Linked DNA regions of Homo sapiens: region 1 is linked to region 2. Evidence: fine-mapped expression QTL. Tissue or cell type: whole blood. Region 2 holds a variant in brackets; the other region holds the start of a gene. All regions are shown on one strand. Distances are between the middles of the regions.

Region 1 (10,389 bases), 100 kb before region 2:
TTGAGACCAGCTTGGGCACACAGCAAGACCTGTCTCTAACTGCTTCCCTCCGCTGCTACCCAGAAAAAATATGGAAAGAAAGCAGAGAAAAAATCTAAAATTAAACCCAGTAATTTGACGCAATGATGAGTTTAGTCAGGGCTGATGGAAGGATAACAGAGATGGGAAATCAAGTATTTAGGTGCTTTTCTAGGATGTATCACTCCTAACTTTATTTATTTTCTACCCTGATAATTTTTTTGTCATTACTTAGAAATCATAGCCTCTTAAAAGGACTATTTGAATATTGAAATGAAATCAACAAAAAAAACTTTGAAATGGATTCAGAGGTCTCTTTTGCTTTTTCACATTTGTTATGGTCTAAATCAGAGGTCATCAAACTATAGCCCATGGATCACATGTAGCCCACTTTGTCTGGTTTGGTTGTTTGTTTGCGTTTTCCTGGTCCAAGAGCTAACAATGGTTTTAATATTTTTAAGTGGTTATATTTTTAATAGTTATATTGATTCCTACATAATATCCTCAGTTTTACCTTGGCCTGTAACACCTAAAACATTTACTATCTGGCCCTTTAAGAGAAAGTTTGCTGGCCCTTGGTCTAGACAATTTTTCTTCTTCTTAAGAGGAATTCAAAGCTTTTGTGAAATGGTTATATTGTTGGTAAGAGTGTAAGTGGATACTGAGTTTACAATGAAGCATTTTTGGCCCTTATCCACTTAGAATTTTCTGTCTGCTGTCTGGAATCTGTTACTTAGGGTTTTATTTGTCATTAAATGTTTGGCATCTTTTCCCATCCTTTCTCATGAAGGATGGATGGCCATTTCCTAGTGAAGCAAAAAAGTATAATGTAAATTTGTATAAACATCAATTTAGATAGTTTCTCAAAGACCAAAAGAAAAAATAAGAGTTTGGTACTTACTGAGACAAAAAAAAATGTTTTTCCTCTTATATTCAATTTCTTATAAAAGTTAAAACTGAAAGCATCTTGGACCAATGACTGCTTTAATATTCCCTGAAGCAGAGGGTAGGGAGGGGAGGAGGAACCAGAATCACCCAAGGAGCATTTTTCAATTACACTCCTCCAGGTTCTCCTCCCCTCTCCCCAGGCAGCAAGATTCTTTTCTGTGGAAAGCAAATGCTCTCCCAGGGAGCATTTAGTAATTACTCAGGGGTATTGGGTTGGAAACCAAGGAGCAGCTTTAATGCCCTCAGTGCAGAGAGTTCAACCATGTTCTCTAGCCCAGACACTAAACCACACCCAAGATCAGCTGGGGTCCACCAAAAGATGCTTAGACAAATAAAGAATCAACACTAACACCTGGATTACCAACACCAGTGTGACTAACACTTTTTCCCTTGCAGGGGCATAACCTTGAGGCAATTTTATTTAAGAAAAGACCAATATAACTTGTTTCATTTTTACCAGAAAAATTGTGTTGTGGATGATTGGAATTTTTATCCTTTAGACAAATTATGAATACTGTTGGAAGCTACTTAAAGATAAATTAGTAAGTTAATAAATAATTTTTTAAAGTAGAATGGAACAATATTCTCAGCTTGATTTTGCAGAGTTAAATTCTCGTCAATTGAATCTTTACATATTTGGACTTCCTCTGGGAAAATATAAGCAATATAAACAAATCTCTGGATAATTTTAACTTTTTAAAATGTCTGATACATTACTCTATAAAGTATTATTTTTCATCTCTGTATTTAACAGTGATCTAAACTGATAATGGCTAGGATATACAATCTAAATCTGGTTAAATTACATAATGACTGTTTAATCATAATAGCCATCTTTTATTCTGCTCTAAAAATTCTAAGCATATTCATTGTCATAGCATATCTACCAGCAAATTTGGGAATTTCTATCTTACAGATGCAAAAGCATCATATGGAGAATATATATATATATAGCATTTATAAATTTACAAAGGAAGTGGCTTAAAAATAATTCGGTAGTTAAGTTATACTGTTAACAATCTTTTTTTGATGTCTGCCTTGTTGATATCTGTCTACTAAGCAAAATAAAAATTATAATGGTATTAAGATGGCCAGAAAATTCAAATCCTAAAGTAACTTTTGGTGCCTATGTTCTCATTGGATTCAACCACATACTTGCCAAATCTCGGCTTCTGTTTATAATATGTAGGTAATATGCCCTGTGGATAATACAAATGGTTTCTGAAACATGAAAGAAACGCTCAGTGATACAGATCCAGGGGAAAGAAAAGTTACATTTTCGTGCTTAATATATAACCCTGGTCATTTCTATGGAAACAGATCGTTATGAGAAATCACCATCATGTAACTGCATAATAAGGCCTGTTAGAATTGATTGCTAATAATTGTAATGTGCTTAGGGAAAAACAGCATGGAAGCCTCACCTACCTGAGACAACAAAATGAAATCACTAAGTACAGGAAATCAGAGTGAATAATAACAGTGTATTCCCATCTGCCCACCCAGGAAACCCTTCCTTCCACCTTTGTTACAATGTGATAGTCTGACTGTTGCTCTAATATGAAAATCCATAAATAGGGTTTTGGAGTAGCTAGTTGGTGGTGGTCAGCTGTACCATAAGTTAAATGCAAATTTTTTGAGAGTGAGAGGAAAAAGGAGAGACAACTTTATTAGAGTGAAATAGTCAACCTGCCTGCAGACATGCTGACCCATCAGTCATTCCAACAGGTTTAAACTCTCAGGTGGGTGTGGTATTTCCGTTCACATCCCCAGTACTGGGCTCAAAGCTCCAGGACTGAAAGTAGAATGCCTCCTAGAACTGTTAAGTCTTCAACACAGTAGAAAAAAACGGGGGATAGGGGTTGGGGCGGGGGGGGTGGGCAGTGGGATTTGGGGAAAACAAAAAACTTCCAATTTTCACTTTATTTAAAAATGAATAAATGCGCTTAATTCACTGTTGCTCAAGAAATAATCTCCCGCGTGTTTCAGCATACCAAAAAGGCCTAACTTACGCCAGGTGTGTAAATCATAAAGGAGCCAAAGTCTTCCGTTTGTTTCTAAGGCCTCCGGGCGCAGGAACCTCGCGGAGGCCCGTGTGGTCCCTCGGGGCTCTGCACGCGTGGGAGCTGCCCGGCCTGCTGAGCCTGGGAGCGCCGGCAGCGCGTTCCCACGCTCAGGCCGGGTCGGGAAGCCGTGGTGACCCCTAGGGGCTCCTTTCCGCGGTTCTCGCCCTCGCAGCCCCGCCCCAGCCGCCCCTCCCCTCCTGGTTCCAGTCCCGGAGCGTGGGAGCGCAGCTGCAGCGAGCCGGGAGCGAGGCGCGGAGGCACCTCCAAGGATGCGCGCCCGCGACCCGGCCAGCAGGCTGAGGACCAGGCGAGGCGCGGGGGGCCTCCCACACTGGGCGCCGACCTGGGCCACAGCCAGGGTAGCCGGCCACTTACTTGATGTCTTCCCACACCTCGGGGCCGTAATTGCGGATCACCAGCAACTCCAGGGCGTGATTCACAAATCCGTACTGCGGGGACAGGGAGAGACTTGAGCGTCAGGGACCCGCTGTACCTGAGAAGCGGCTTGGGGGCGAGGCTGCTGCCTCTGCTCCCATGGCGCTGGCTTAACCTTTCACCCCGCCCCTGACTCCTCTCCCTTAGGGGTACTATGCACTAAAGGAGTCGGATCGTGGGGGCGCAACCCCCCAATCCCTGGTGGATTCTCCCCGTCACCATCCGCCCCACCCCCACGCTATCTTCCCACCCTCCTCACCTGTCACCGCTCCGGGAGAGGCTGGGCATCGGGGGCAGCGCGGGGACGCGAACCCGGAGCCTTCCCTTCCGCTGGCGCTCAGCCTCCCACACTGGTGGGGCCGGCCAGAGCCGGGAAGACCCCACGCCTCCGCCGCACCTCCCCTTCCCGAGCTCAGGAAGCTGCGGTGTGGAGCGGCAAACCCGCCTGGGAAGCAAAGGCACCGATCGCCCCCGCCACGACTCGCGGCGTTCCCACCTCCCCTGACTGGGCGCGGGCAAGGAGTGAGGCTGCTCCCGTGGCCGGCAGTGAGCGCCCAGGGCCCCCGAGCCAAGCTCCGGCTGCGCGGCCAGTTCCCTCGCTGCCAGGCCGGCCGAGGAGGGGTGAGGTTCGGGCCGCACCCGGCTGAGAGCACTTACCATGGTGTCTGCACCGGGAGCCGGGGAGGCAGCCCCCACGCAGAGGTACGGCCGAAGGGACCCAGGCAGAGGCGGCAGCGGCTACAGCGCAACCGGGCCGGGGAGGCAGCATCGAGCTGGAGCGAGAACAGCCGCCTTGGCCCGCCCTGATTGCCACCTCTTCCCAGCCAATGGCGAGTCGAGCCGCAGGGGGCTGGTCGGTGCTCCCCAGTTCTTCAACCAATCAGGGACAGAGGAGGGAATTCGGATGCTCTCAATGCTGCTGCGCTCCAGTGCCTTCCCGCCCCCGCCTGGTGACAAGGCCTTCATTTGAGGCCATAACAATGACAGTGGAGAAGCCCCAGCCGTGCTCCTTGCATGAATTCTGGAGCAGAGGAAATGCAGCTCTTGTGGACCCACTAAATGTATTATTATTCAGAGATCTGCCCTCAGTGGTTAACACAAGCAAAAGGGAACAGGGCGTGTTTGTTGTGTGAGCGTGTACGTGTGTACTTTGCAATGGACAGACCTTAAAAGGAATATCCTCTGTTGCTGGCATCCTCATGCTTATCTTTGTCTAGCGGAAAAACATTTCCTCTGTGGCTTGGTCCCACAACAGTTTATGGCAAATTTAAAGCTGGTAATATTGAGAAAAACATATTTTCACTTCTAGTCAATGAGACTAGTTGAGTGAAGCACCAAAAATTTTCAGTAATGTAGTTTGGTGGACGTTATGTTAAATCCAGTCCTGCCCTTTACTAAACTGTACAAGATCCAGCGATATTCTAGGCTTGATCCCTGTGGGACACCTTTCCCTACACCATGTCCGGGAGCCATAATTCCAGGGAGTTTGTAACCCTCTAGAGCGGGCCTCTGTTGCTGTTTCTTAGCAACAGACGAACTGGAAAATGACCAGTACAAAATGCACAGACTTTAACTACTCTACCTCCAGCTTACATTCTACCAGGCCCTTAGGTTAGTTAATGCTCTGAGTCCTGCCATAGAGAGAAGATGAGAGGAACAGGAAGTGGCAGCTTATTAAAGCTGTTTGTACCTGAGGTATATGGACTCCAGTTGACTTTTAGGGCAAGGTCAAAAGTGAGGTCACCAGTCTCAAGTGGACCTGAGAAGCCAGATGGTATTTTAAGATGTGCATATTTTGTTGTGAGAACAGTCTCAATATGGTTAGAGAAAAATGTCAAAACAATAAGATTGTGCTGACATCAGCACCGAGAGAGCTATGATGAAGGAAACTGATACAGAAATAGTGGCATGTAGCAAACAAACAAAACAACAAATTACTTTAAAAATTTCCATTATTGGTGGAATGAGTAAATAGATTACAGCCTTTCATACAATCTAACACCTTGTTTTAAACAACTATTAAAACATTAATCATTATTTAACAACAATTAACCACTAATTTTGAACCATTAAAATGGCACATTAAACAACCATGAAAAAGCAGGAGGGTGACTAGAAAATGATGATGCAGAAAAGTATTGTCAGGTTTACAAAACACCACAAGAATGTAATCATTTTCCATTTTTTAGAGTTAGTATACAGTAAGGTGCTATGTGGGTAATAACACAGGCACATACATGTTGCTGTAAGAATAATGGTTTGGGAGGAAACACAGGAAGTGTTGATATGGCTATCGTCTGTAATTAGAACCAGTGGCTGGAATGGCCATGACTCTTACTTTTTATAACTTTCTGTATCTTTTGATTATTTTTCTACACAGATGAATTTTCTTTACTGTTACATAACTGAATTTTTTTTAACTTTTATTTTAGTTTCAGGGGCACATATGCAGGTTTGTTATATAGGCCAATTACATGTCTTGGGGGTTTGGTGTACAGATTACTTTGTCACCCAAGCACTAAGCATGGTACCCAACAAATAGTTTTTTGATCCTCACCCTCTTCCCACCTTCCATCCTCAAGTAGGCCCCAGTGGTCATTGTCCCCTTCTTTGTGTTCATGTGTACTCCGTGTTTAGCTCCCACTTGCAAGTGAGAACATGTGGTATTTGGTTTTCTGTTTCTGTTAATTTACATAGGATAATAGTCTCCAGCTCCGTCCATGTTGATGCAAAGGACATGATCTCATTCTTTTTGATGTCTGCATAGTATTCCATGGTATATATGTACCACATTCTCTATCCAGTCTACCACTGATGGACATCTAGATTGAGTCCATGTCTTTGCATATAGTGAATTCACATATTAATTCACATATATTCACAAGTATTCATTTTGTGAATAGTTTATTTCATTCCATGTGACTAGTGCTGTGATGAACGTATATGCATGCATGTGCCTTTATGGTAGAATGATTTATACTCCTTTGGGTATATACTCAATAATGAGATTGCTGGGTCAAATGATGTTTCTGTTTTAAGTTCTTTGCGAAATCACCAAACTGCTTTCCACAATGGCTGAACTAATTTACATTCTCACCAGCACTATATAAGAGTTCCCTTTTCTCTATAACCTTGCCAGAATCTGTTGTTATTTGACTTTTTAATAATATACATAAAATAACTTTTAACTTGCTAAAAAAACTTAAAAAAAAAAACTATGTCTCTTATCTGTTCACCTTTGAGCAGCAATGGACCCATGCTCTCTGGTTTACGGTGTGTTGTGGTGTCCTCCACCTTAAACTTTACATAGGCAAAAGATAAGGAGATTGAATTGTTCTCTGGGAATGAAAAATGAGGAAAGCTCACTTAGAGAAAGATATGAGAGGAAATGAATAATGAGCATTTCTGCCAATGTCCCTTTCTCTCTGTCTCTTTCTCTCTATTTCAGTTCTTCTACCCTCACTTTCCCTTTTGTCCAATAACTTTTTGCACTTGTTGTTGTTTTTGTCCAACACATTTTTGCATTTGTAAATGTTTTTACTGTTTTATTTTCCAATTGTCTTATATTCATTCTGAATCTAAAAGAAGTTCTAGACACTAAACATTTACTGACTTTTGTTTGGCCTACAAGATATTACACAGGCTGTGATGTTCAGGGACAGAAGGATGCCTGCCAGCTGTAGAGGATCTCAAAAGAGGGGTCACCATTCTTCTATAAAAGCTCCCTACCTGTTGTCATCACTGCTGGCCAAGTAGCATAGGAATCATATCAGGAAGTAGATTATGCTATATTCTCTGAACAATGCATTGCATTCTTGTATGTATGCCCCAAGCTGAGGAGGATCAGTTAAAGATGAAAAAGAAGAGCTTAGGGAATGGCTTAGCCAGCCCTAAAATCAACATGAAGTTCAGTCTAATGAATGAACAATAAGTAAAAAGGCAATATGTGGCTTTCAGAAATGTCAGCTGAAGTGACTCACATTTTCAGCGAATAAAAATAAATTACTTTGGTAAGTTAAGTATTAAAAGTATTGTAATCGGCCGGGCGCGGTGGCTCACGCCTGTAATCCCAGCACTTTGGGAGGCCGAGGCGGGTGGATCACGAGGTCAGGAGATCGAGACCATCCAGGCTAACACGGTGAAACCCCGTCTCTACTAAAAATAACAAAAAATTGGCTGGGCGTGGTGGCGGTCTCCTGTAGTCCCAGCTACTTGGGAGGCTGAGGCAGAAGAATGGCGTGAACCTGGGAGGCGGAGCTTGCAGTGAGCCCAGATTGCGCCACTGCACTCCAGCCTGAGTGACAGAGCGAGACTCCGTCTCAAAAATAAATAAATAAATAAAGTGTTGTAATCATTGTTTTCAAGGCTTTGCTAGTTAATGTGAAAATTAGAAACCTTTGATTAAGGATAAAGGAAGATACATATATATTTGGGGGTGTTCCCAGGTCTGTGCATGTGTTTGTCAAAGCTCTGGTGTTTTGCCAGTTTTTTCTGTGGCTTCCATTTTTAGATCATTTTATGGAGCAGCATGTCATTTCATTTCAACTATTTCTTATACAATGATTTGCTTTATATTCATGTGCCTCTTTAATCTCTGTGGCTAAGAGCCGAATATTGATTCTTTGTGAAGCTTCTGCTGCTGGTCTTGGTTAGTCGCACAATAATCACATCTGTTGTCATTATTTTTGCTAATATAGTCACTCAATACTTCAAGCAAGGAATTCAGAATACTTACAAGCAAAGAGAAAAGCAAATTCTAAATGACACATTCGGTGATGTGATTCTAGATCAATAGAACAAAGAGAGATCCAAGAATTCAGATTCCTAAAGAAGTGACATTCAGATTTATTGTTAACTTGCCAATGAACTGTAAGTTTTGTCATATGAAAAAGGTAGTATTGAATATTAAAAGAAGCACTTTTTAAATTACTTTTTTCTACATCAAATTCTTTTAATATTTACCTTGCCATCAGAACTTATAAACAAAAAACATTAGTCATGCATACATATATATGTATATCCATTTATTTATAAGGTTTAAACAATTATGTATGAAAATTAAAAGAAATTAAAAGAGAATTAAAGATGATGCTTAGTATCAATGTTATAATAAGTAAAAGCATTAAGTTAAATCAACACATCACTATAACATACTGGGAGTATATGAAATTAAATAAAAATATGTTTCATTTTCAAGAAAAGCTTATGAATACCAGATTGAGCTATAAAGTTTTGCTTCTGAAGTCAAATTGATTAAAATAAAAACTAACTTGTTTTCATCTTCTTTACAGCCTAAGCTTGTACATGGCTGGGAGAGATTATCTTAATCTTTTTCTTTAGTTTATTAAGGATAGATCTAACATGATTATGTCAAAGATTGATTGACTTTGAGCACTGAAAGGTATTTTGGAGGTCATTTAGTCAATGATATTTTCCTATATCTGGAAATCTCTTTATGAACTTGTTGGGGAACAGTGAAAACTTAAAATCTTAGCCAAGAAGTATAATTAGTAAAGTTATGAATTGTTGTCCTCAGAAAGTGTGGAGGATATTAAGATTCCCATCAAAGTAGAGCTAAATATACTTTCTTTCCCATAGTCTCGCCCAGTGGAAGTTGGAATCTAGATTTCAAAAGCTGTCCATAACTCTCAAAAGCCTCTAGATACTATATTAAAATAATGTTCTTCTCTAGTCTATGTTGAAACTACTTATTATTATAGATATAAATAGAAAATAGCAGGGAATAAGAGCCACTAATTAAAATATTTGGTTGCTTCTTTTTGTAACTTTATTTGATTTAAAAAACAAAAATTAGCTATGGGGACAGTTTAGTGTAGGAGTTAATTGTACAGATTCTTTAGTCAGACTGCCTGTTTTCAACCATTGGACAAATTACTTAATGTATTTGAACTACAGTTTCCTCACTTGTAAAACAGGAAAAATAACAGATCAATATACTCCAGTGCTGAGAAGGTTAAAAATATTACCTACCCCACAGGTTTGCAAGTGTGATGCTTAAAGCAATGATTGCAAAATGTTAAGTCCTCACAAACTGTTAGTTAATATTGTTTTTGAGGTGGTGGTTGTTATTGCTGTGTTTGAAGTCAATGATTAATGAAACTAAACCCCTTTTGTCCACCTTATATAAATGTAATATGTCCACTGACAGTGAATGCATAGTGAAAAGAGCTGCACCATGTCAAACTAAAAGATCTAGATCACCCTTGTCAGTTACTTGCTTGGCAATTCAACCTGTCTGAGCCTGGAACTTCCCATTTTATAATGGTGATAGCATTGCCTGGCCCACCTTGCTCAACTAAGATACTAAGAGGATCAAATGAGACATCTTCGAAAGCTTCTTGTAAAATTTAAAGGACTACATAACTCTGTTACCGATTGTTTGGAGTTAGTAACAATAAGCCAAGGACTCACATATGAAACATTGAGTGACAACTGACAATCTGCAAGAAAATCTCTTGCCTACATCGACTTTTCATGTTCAGATTACTGGTTTTGTTGTTGTTGTTGTTGTTGAAAATAAAATCCAAATCTAACTAGATTCATAACATACAACTATATTATCAGTTTTCTAACAAATATAGCATGAGTAAAAATAATGAAAAGGAGATAAATTGTCCATTAATATGTTTACATAAAGCATGAGCTTTTTTTTTCCTGAATGGGTGCTTCATCAGCAACATAAAAAGTTAAAATTAGCTTATGCTAATGTATTAAAATCTTACTAAGTTTTATTGACATTTGAAGCAAAAGAATTGCATTGAGTGTATTTACTGGTATGCTTATAAAACATACATCTGTAATAAAATGCCATTTAGAATATATTTTGAAGGATCTTTAACTATGACTTACAGTGTCTCCACATGATAGTTCCCCCATGTGACAAAAAACATCAAAATATCAA
Region 2 (10,389 bases):
TGTCAAAGTGTCTTTGGTATTGGACAATGGCAAAGGCTGGAAGAATTGTGTGTAGCCAGCATTTTAAAAACCTAGATTGCAGGGTGGGGGGATGGGGGAGGGATAGCATTAGGAGATATACCTAATGTAAATGATGAGTTAATGGGTGCAGCACACCAACATGGCACATATATACATATGTAACAAATCTGCACGTTGTGTACATGTATCCTAGAACTTAAAGTATAATAATAAAAAATAAAATAAAATAAAAACCTAGATTGCCTTGAACACATTGTTAGTAGAAACATGGATGCTAACTCTGCTAGTGAGGCCTCAGAAGAAAGTGAGAGGCATGGTAGAGAAAATCTGTATCATCTTAGGGAATACATAAATCATCATAAATCATCATGAACAGACTGCTGGTACAAATATGGACATTAAAAGTGCTACGAACAGGATACAGGTGGAAATGAGGAAAGTGTTATTGGAAGTTGTAGGAAAGGAGATCATCAGTTGATATGGTTTGGCTGTGTCCCCACTCAAATCTCACTTCGAATTTTAACAATCCTCACATGTCAAAGGCAGGGCCAGGTGGAGATAATTGAATCATGGGGGCAATTTTCCCCGTACTGTTCTCCTGGTAGTGAATAAGTCTCACGAGATATAATGGTTTTATAAACGGGAGTTCCCCTGCACAACTTGTCTTGCTTGTTGCCACATAAGACGTGGTTTTGCTCCTCCTTCACCTTCCGCCATGATTGTGAGGCCTTCCCCAGCCATGTGGAACTGTGAGTCCCTTAAACCTCTTTTTCTTGAAAAATTACCCAGCCTCAGGTATGTCTTTATTAGCAGCGTGAGAACAGACTAATATGTCAGTATATGGTGGCAGAAAACTTAGCCGAATTATGTCTCACAGATATGTGGAAATATTGATCTTGGATATTTAACTGAGAAGATTCCTAAGCAAAATGGTGAAGGCACAGCCTACTTTCTTCTTGCTATTGTAAAATGTGAGAAAACAGAGAAAGATTGAAGGAAGAACTGTTAAGCCGAAAAAGAACCAGAACTTTATCTGGGAAATCCTCAACCTATCCACATTGCAAATTTTGCTATGTCATCTTTTGTCATGGTAAACGTGTCTTTTTACTTTGCAAGTCTGAGAGATTTTATCATTTCTCATATTTGAAAAGCCTGCTACATGTCTAGATACAGGAGGCCTCTATATGTTTAACTTATATTAAAATAATAGTTATACTGACTTTTAGTTGCCAATAGTTAGCCCTGATATCATTACATAGGCACTAGTATTCCATAAATTGTATGCACTTTGAATTAAAACAAAATGGTATCCTATAGGCCCTGACATATTTAATGCTGTTTCAAAAATACTCTACCATAGGGGTAACTTACAAATTCAATGATTTTGGAAAACTGAAAAAATATAGAGTGGATACAGTGTCATATAAAAAAGTAAGATGAATGAGTTAATGGCTACTGCAAAATAAATATGAAACTTGTTCAAAGGTGTTTTTGAGTATAACTCAAGATATTTCAACACAAAATATCTCAAAAAAGTTGATCAGTTTCAAAAGAAAGCTTCAGCCAAATGAAGAAATGATGTGTTAAAAAAAATTCCATGGAAAGATAGCTGTAGTTAAGCTCTCATTCTAAGTTGGTTCAACAACACTCTGTTTTCAATATTGTTTTTTTCCTCTAGCTTAGTACCCATTCGCTATCTTGCTTCTTATGAGATTTCTAGACTTTCCAAAATCATTGGCCATTTGAAGACAGAGTCCGTGTTTTATGGGTCTTTGACTTTACTATTTTTTTTTTACATAGAAAACTAATGCCAGGTGCCAATCAAACAAAACGAATTATCAAAATAAGGACGAATGATCTCTTTGCTGTTGTTCTAACATTTTAATTGTCAAGAGAGAATCATCGTTAATCATAAGTTAACATAATAGGATGATAATTATCCACCAGGCATTATTCTAAGCACTTTGTATGCATTACATTATCTGTTTCCCCTAAAATCCCTTTGAAGGTGAGCATTATTATCATGTCAGCTTTACAGATGAGAAAATTGGGGTATAGGGAGATTAAGCATCTTTCCTAAAATCACACAGCTAGGAAGTGGCAAAATTAGGACTCAAACTCAGGCAATCTGGTTCATAAGCCTGGGGTATTAATAATTCTGGTTACTCTGAAAGGAGCTTGTGAATTATCAAAATAAAGATCACCAGCTCAGATTTATTAAGTCATATTCTTTGAGTAGGCTCCAGAAACCTGTATTTTAACAAGCATCTGTAGATCATTCTGAGAGTTGAGGATCACACGAATACTAAAAATGTCAAGGTTGTAATCTTATTGAAGAAGCCTTTGGGTGTTTGCCCTCTGGTGATGCCATTATGTAATAGGCTTGAGTTTTCAATATTAGCACATCAAACTGATCTCTTGATGTCTTTGCTTAACATTAGTTTCAGCTACCAAGTGACTAGTGGAGAATATGAGTTTCAATAGCTTGATTTCCTAGTAGAATGGCTAACTACATAGATGTCTTGTGTTTTCATTTAATTATGCGTTTGTAGAAAAGGAGGGAAGAAGGGGAGGGAGGGAGAGAGGAAGGGAAGGAGAGAGAAACTTGACTGAAGGTCAGCAAAGCATTGGAAATATATCCAATGAAGTTACTTATAAAAGGAAATATTCAGGAAAATATACTTAGGTGATTTTTTTCCAATTCTTCAAATGTCACAAAAGTTGTCTTATTCTTGCTTCCTTTCATGGCAAAACCTATTCAAAAATAATTGTTGATTAAATGAAAGCCTTTCACAGAGAGTTGAAAATTTTTAACATCTTCTATTTTTAGACACTGGACATGTAAACAACCCAAAAGCTCCTGAAGTTGAAGCTCCAAAGCATCTTGCTCAACCATATGGCTGTCTGCTAGTTCAGGAGGTCTTGCATAGCTGAGTTAAAACAGAGTTAAAAAAAAACAGCCTTAATAGAACATCAATCACATTTAGAAGGGCACATTTACTCAAAATTATTATAGATGAGGTTTTTTTTTCATTGTGGAGACTATGAGCATGAGCCCTTATATTTGAAGAAATATTCAAAAGTAATATGAGCTTCTGATCTTTAGGAGAGAGTCATCTGTATAAAAAAAAGTTTGTAAACTTTCAAAGAACTTTTTTTAAAAAAGTAGACTTTATTTGCTAAAGTGCCCTCTCTTTAAAAGTATTGTAAGAGATAAAACATTTTCTACTTCTTAGATTATACTTTCATAATTTAAAGCTACAAAATATGGTATGAGAAAAATCATATGCCACCAATTAAGCTGTCCTGTAAAAATAAGCCCAGGAAATTTTCTTTATTCTCACACAGGACACCCACTCACTGGGGATGTTTTGTATTAATGAGCTAATGTAACTGTATCCGAAAAATCTAATGAATGGGTATGAGTTTTGCTTTTGATTCTCACTGTGCCTTAGAAGTCAAGATGTTTTCTTTGAACCTAGCTCCTAAGTGTGTTTCATGCCTGCTTCTCCTCCTGGAAAAAGGGAAGCACATAGATCTCAAAACTGTAAAAGGCAGCCAAAAACACTGAGATACTCTTAAATGATAGTCTCACCAGACAGGGCCAAAAGGCATATCCTGAGCCATGGCTTAAAAAAAGAACTGATTCAAGTCTGAAAGTAAAGAGAACTCTGTTTTGACATAGGGAAAAGGCAAATTATGCAGAGGCAGGCTTGTTGAAATCTCACTTTATGAAAATGACAGCTATGGCTGCCGCTCTCATATTTATAAAATACTTTGTTTAAACAGTTGACAATATTACCTAAGAGAAATAATGTCTTACCAAATCTCTTTCTTATTACTTTTTAGAGTATTCTATTTTGGTCTCATTGTAACATTAATGCAAGGAGCTTTCCCTTTCCAACACTATGGAAGATGTGCAGAGAAACCCTTCCTAGTGCTGAAAAGCTGACAGGCTGAATAAAAATTTAAATATGCTTTTAAGGCTTAACCAGGCTGCCTCTTCAGAAAAGGTAATGTGATGAGACCAGAAACAAGGAGAAAGGGTGCCATTGGTAAGCAAGCATGGTGTCTGGCAATTGC[C/A]CTGAGGTCACCTACTTATAACTGGTGGGCTTAGAGCCTAGGTTATCGGGTGACATGTGCAGGGGAGACAGAAAACAAAACTAGTTGTGCAAATTGAAAATGACACCACACTAATAATAGCCTTGGGTGGGGAAGGAGAGTGTTTGCACACAAAGTACCTTGTCTCTTTAAGTATTGGCTGATAATGGAGCAGGGAAAAAACACATCTCTACTGAAAATTTCTGAGCACAAGCCTCTACTTATACAGTCTTTTATTTGAAATTTATACTAACTCTGTGGCTTGAAAATCCCCAGGCAGAAACTGTATTTGAAGTGGTCCGTGTTGAGAATGCCCCAGGAGCCAGGCAGAAGCAAACATAAATTCTCACTAGGAAAATACACTTTAAAGATAAGCTTCAAATAATCACTACAAATAAAGTATCAGGGAAAACAAGTCTGTAATAAGGAAGTTATCAAATACATGAGGAAAAAAGCTGCCATAAATCATAGAAAGCAGAACTAAAGAATTTAAAATCAGACCAACAAGGACTATAAAAGCAGAAATTATTCAAAACAGAATATATGTTTAATATATATATTTAAATAAAATGTATTTGTAGCATAACAAAGAAACCAAATAAATGACTTGACCAGTTTGAAACTAAAACCAAAAAGAACTCCCAGAAATTAAAAACACAATAATTAGAAATAAAGTTTCATGAATGTATTAAATAGATTAGATAAAACTGAAGAGAAAATTAATGAACTGGAAAATATATATAAAGAAATAATACTGAATTTAGACAAAAAGATGAATTAAAATATGAAGGATAGGTTAAGACATTTGAAAGGTACTATAAGGAGAGAATAGCAATTTAGTGGCAAGGCAATATTCAACATGATAGTGGTTAAGAGTTTCCAGAATTTAGTTCAGTCACCCATCCTCTGCTTAGCCCAACAATTTCCAAGAAAGATAAATACATTTTAAAATATCTAAAAATCCACTTACAAATACATTTGGTAAAAGGACCAAACAAAGATAAATAAATCTTAAAAGCAACCAGAGAGAAAATCAGATCACCTACAGTGGAATGACAATTAGACTGACTATCAGCTTTGCTAATTGCATAACAGAAATAATTAAAGGTGGAAGAAAACAATCTTCATAGTGCGAGAAATGCTGAGAGATAAATTACTGTCCTTAGGATCTTATATTCAGGAAAATTGACTTTGAAGAAATGGTTGGTGGGGATGGAAAGAAGTTAATCTTTGAGATTTTAAAACGAACATACCTCCTATAAAATAATTTCTAAAGATGTAGTACAGAAAGAACAATTTCCAATCAGGAGTTCTAACTGCCAAGAAAGAATAGTGAGGAAAAAAACAACAAATATGTAACATGTTTAGGTCAAATACAAACAAAGAAATAGAGTGATAAACTTTTAAGTATTTCCTTTCCTCAAAAAGAATAAAGCAAAGGGCTACAAACTAACTGAAGTTATTTGCAACACATAATTAAAAACAGATGAACAACTTTGTAAATAGTCCACATGTCCTACATTTTTCTTTGATATGTTCCCAAGAGTTTGGGTTTCAGAGAATGAGTTATTTAATTGTGACTAATACCACTAGTCAGATCATTTAATATTTTAATCAATTTATAATCTTATCTGTTTTGTGTAAAGAATGAACTACATGGTTGCTATTATTTTTAAGATTTATGTTTGATATTTTTCATTAAAAGTGAATCTCAAAGTGTATTTCTTTCATAAGTGATTTTAAATATCTTACATGTTTATTTAGTCATTATTATTACCACAACCCCCTATTTTTTTGACTGTCCGTTGATGTCCTTTGCCCTTGGTTGAGGTATTAGTGTTTTTCTAATTCATTTGAAGACATTCCTCATATAGTGAGATTATGCACCTGAAATATCAAAATTATGAACCTCAACTTTGAATTCATCTTGATTAAATTACAAGAAACCATAGATTACAATAGAATTTAATGAGAAGCCATGGACAAAAAGTACTCAGCGTTGGGCTGATTAACATCCTTTTCAAACTAGTTAAGACTATTTGCATTATGGTGATCATAATAGGACAATGAAAGAACGCAGTTGGAGGGCTAGGCAGGTAAGGCAAGGACTTATTTAAAATTAAAGTATGCACGGTCTGATTTTCCATGTGATAATTAGAGCCCCCTTTTATCTGTAGACTGACATTCAAAAAGAGGCAAAATACACTCTTGTCAGATTCATTCATTCATTCATTCAAATACTTTTACTGAATAACAATCATAAACCAGGCACTATTCTGTAAACTGGGGAACAAGCAAGGATCCCTATTATTGTGGCATTCCACAATGACAAAACAGATGATTAAAAAGATTAACAAATAAAATATTAGGATGTCAGGTGGTAATATGTGCTATGGAGAAAAACAGAGCAGAGAAGGATGGTTGTTGGGAGGTGGTTAAGGTAGGAAGAATAGGGAATGTCAGCTGTGCAGCCAATAGATTGTTATTTCTTAAATCTCTCAAGTATGAAATATTTAAGTTTCGTTACAACCACTGTCTCCGATTTCATTTTCGTTTGGAAAACCTATCACTTTACGCATTTCAAACAGAAAGGGATGCTAATAGAACTACTGAAAGACCTGGGGAAGGAATGTAGGGATCCCAGGAGGAACATACCCTTGAGGATGTCAGCTGCCTGCAGCAGGCATGAGGTTGATACAGATCTCAACAAGGTCCTCTGCCCCTGCAGGTGTCTTCTGCTGCCAGAGGAGAACAGTGCTTCTCCTGTTCTCTTTCATCTAAATCTGACATAAATTCTGAATCCAAATTAAACCCTGTTGGTGGAGGATTCTGGGAACTGTCCTTTCCATGCTCCCTACTTGCATTGCAAAAGAAAGTATAGAGAAAAAGGAAGTTTACAAAGGGGCAAGAATGATGCAGAGTTGCTAACAGCAATCTGACACGGCAGCAAAGTTTGAAAATACATTTATTATCACAAATAATGCAAAAGTTTGTTTTTGCCCAATTAGTTCATACATTTATTACAGATTATTAAATTTTCCCATCTAAGTTGTAAATGAATCCCCCAGCTTTGAGATAATTAACCAGAAGTTTGAGGCATAGAGAGATAATATTAGAAAAAAAGCAGGCTAAATAATGAATAACACAGAGAGGTAGAGTTGGCACTGAGAGGAAACATAGTTCTATTGCAATTTCTTTATGATTCGATTAGGTAAGTTTAATTCGAGTGGTATGAATATTAATTCAATCAAATATATTGTATATTCATTAACTTCACACACTTAAATATTTATTCTACCTTTCCATGAGATGAATTAATATAATAAATGATATGGATATCATGAATGGATATTAATTTATCTATTCAGTCTTTCCTCACTTGATTCAATTATATTTTATTCTTTGTTAACCTAACCGCTGGTGATTTATTTATTTTTAATTTATTTTATTTATTTATTTTTTTGAGACAGAGTCTCGCTCTGTTGCCTAGGCTGGAGTACAGTGGTGTGATCTCCGCTCACTGCAACCTCCGTCTCCCAGGTTCATGCCATTCTCATTCCTCAGCCTCCCTAGGAGCCGGGACTACAGGCGCCGGCCACCACGCCCAGCTGATTTTTTGTATTTTTAGTAGAAACGGGGTTTCACCCTGTTAGCCAGGATGGTCTCCATCTCCTGACCTCGTGATCTGCCCACCTCGGCCTCCCAAAGTGCTGGGATTACAGGCATGAGTCACCGAGCCTGGCCCACTGGGGATTTTTTAAAACTGTGATCTAATCGTGGTTCCCCAGGACTTCACAGTCTGGAGGTGGACAGGAAATTTGAAAAATAATTGCAGCACAATGATACAAATGATATAGAAATGCTCAGAGGGTGCTTTGGGAACTCATAAAGGGCCATGAATAATTTTGAAGAGTTGATGTTTCAATTGAGAATTCTGTGCTGTCTAGTAATTTTCCAAATAGAAGTATAAATAGTCCAATTTTACAGATTAGGAAATTGAAGCTCAGAGAGGCTAAATGTGTGAAGTCATACAGAGTGCCAGCATAGTGACTGATGCAGATTAGGAGTTTCTAATGTTAAGATTTGTTGAATGTGTGGAAGGGAAGGGTGAGGAGTGATTTGGTGACTAGAGAATAGGGTATGAGGGTATGATTGTATTTACTAAAGTTTTCTAAGATTGGTATCTTCAAATTTCAGAAAATCAGATGTTTTTCGCTTGATTCCGATTCTTTTTAAAGTCTCATGATGTGTTTTAGGAGGAAAAGAGTAAAATTCTTACTGTAATAGTAACCTGTCAAACAATACCAACAATGAACGTAAACACAAAAATTAAGAACTTCTTAAAATCCACACATAATTAAGTTAGGTATTAGAATAAAGGGAACCAAGAAGACAAGGAAAAAGCTTATAAGAAAACATGACTGTATCAATAAACTTTAATTGTAGTTTTGTGCATTTTGATAATTCAACAAATACTATTAAGAAGCCCCAAATATTTCATATCTGCTATCCTTGAAGTTTGTCATGTAAGTCAGAGATGAAACATGTAAGAACAGACTTACTTCCAATCTTACTTGTATTGGACTTCCAATCTTACTTGTATCCCTTTTACAGAACAATATTTAGAGCCTACAGGCCATGGAAAGTAAATGGCCAATGTCCAGGCACTTTTAATGAGCTATCTGATGATATTACCTACTTTAACCACACTGAAGCGGAGGGAACATTTTTATCTCATTAGCTATCTGCTTTCCTTCTGCAAATAATGTTTGTTTTATTTTTGGAGTTAAGATGAGTAAATAAAAAAAGAAAAAAGGATTTATAGGGTAAAACTTGTCTTATCATTCAATCTTTTCACAGGTAGACAATTCTTCCAATAGACATTCTTTCAACTATACAGAATAAATACACAGACTTTGTACACTTTTTTTTTAACACATCTCTTTCAGAGGGGAAGAGCAGTTCAAGCAACAGTGACTATTAGGAACATTAATTCAAGAAGAAGCATATTCTAAATTTTTCATTTCTTTAAAAATGTTATACTTTGGTAAAAGAACAAGGGCAACTATAACGAGTTGATAAAATATTAATTAAAATAGGATTTATAACTTAATCTAAATTTTGAGTCTTTCAGTATAAACTTTATTTTTAGATCTTGCTAACTTTAACCTTGGTTTTATTACATAAGTAAGTGAAATAAATTCTTCTAAATCATTGTACCTTCTTACATTTGAAGTCTCTTAAGGATTATTTAAATTTCCTAGTAGATTGACTAGTCATATAAACCTTTGGAATTCATCTACTTACTTTTTAATTGCTGTAAGGAAAGAAAGAATGCTTTCTGTAATTTTAGGAAAAGCTCTAACTCATTTTTCAAGTGTTCTCTATCTAATTTCAGGTTTTCTGCACATTTCCCACTTCTGTAGTCAGAAATTGATAGTGAAAATAAATACCTATATAAATGCCTATCACTAGTATGGAAAGTTTGCATAAATGCTTATTTTACTGGTAATAAAGCAATTATCAGAAAGCTGTAACTTGTTTAGGTCATAGGGCATGAATCTCACCATTTGAAGAGGCCAAGTTTACTCATCACAACACAAAAAGGGAGATATCACAATTATACAAATGCTTAGGCTGTACAGATAGCAAAATTGAGTTATTCAGATCCCCAGCATTCATCTTAGTCAACTTAATTTAATCAAGTGAGTATTAGCCTTAAGATAACTGAAAATCTCCATTAGAACAGCCTCTTGTTTTGGATATTTAAAGACAGCAAGATAAATGTAGGTCTTTTCTTAATGACTATGTGACTTCACTCATATTCCATTCCACCTTAGGATAGCTGCTAGAGAATCTTAAATCTATAAACCATTCCATGAAAATCATTATTTGTATTAGTTTCTTAGGGCCACTGTAACAAATTACCGTGCACTTGGTGGCTTTAAAGAACAGAAATTTCTTCTTTCACAGTTCAGAAGCCCAGTATTCTGAAATCAAGGTATCTCCAGGTTTGATTCCCGCTGGAGACTCTGAGGGAGAATCCTTTCTGAGCCTCCCTCCGAGCTTCCGATGCTGCTGGCAATGCTTGGTATTCACTGGCTTAGAGTTGCCCCACTCTAGTCCCTGTCTCCATCTTCACATGACCTTCCCTCTATGTCTCCATAGCTTCTCTGTTTAAGTTTCTCATAAACTCTCATTGTTAAATTTAGGGGCCACCTTAATCCAGGATGATTTCATCTCCAGATCCTTACCTTAATGATATAT

The links. PIP is the estimated chance that this variant, and not a neighbour inherited with it, causes the effect.
Region 1: GUCY1B1 starts here. The variant in region 2 is fine-mapped to the expression of GUCY1B1 in whole blood (TOPMed, PIP above 0.99).

What each region holds. Positions count from the first base shown.
Region 1 is chr4:155,752,879-155,763,267 of GRCh38, reverse strand. It overlaps GUCY1B1 (guanylate cyclase 1 soluble subunit beta 1), which reads right to left and starts at 4,247. Exons shown (of 14, transcript NM_000857.5): 1 at 4,125-4,247; 2 at 3,408-3,481. The coding sequence starts at 4,127. LOC105377506 (a long non-coding RNA gene) reads left to right here and starts at 4,853. Exons shown (of 8, transcript XR_007058484.1): 1 at 4,853-5,078. RefSeq lists silencers at 3,200-3,469, 3,920-4,069.
Region 2 is chr4:155,652,649-155,663,037 of GRCh38, reverse strand. No RefSeq gene overlaps it. Among named protein-coding and RNA genes, the nearest start is that of GUCY1A1, 9.0 kb to the left of the region's middle. The variant C/A (reference allele first, on the strand shown) is at 4,105.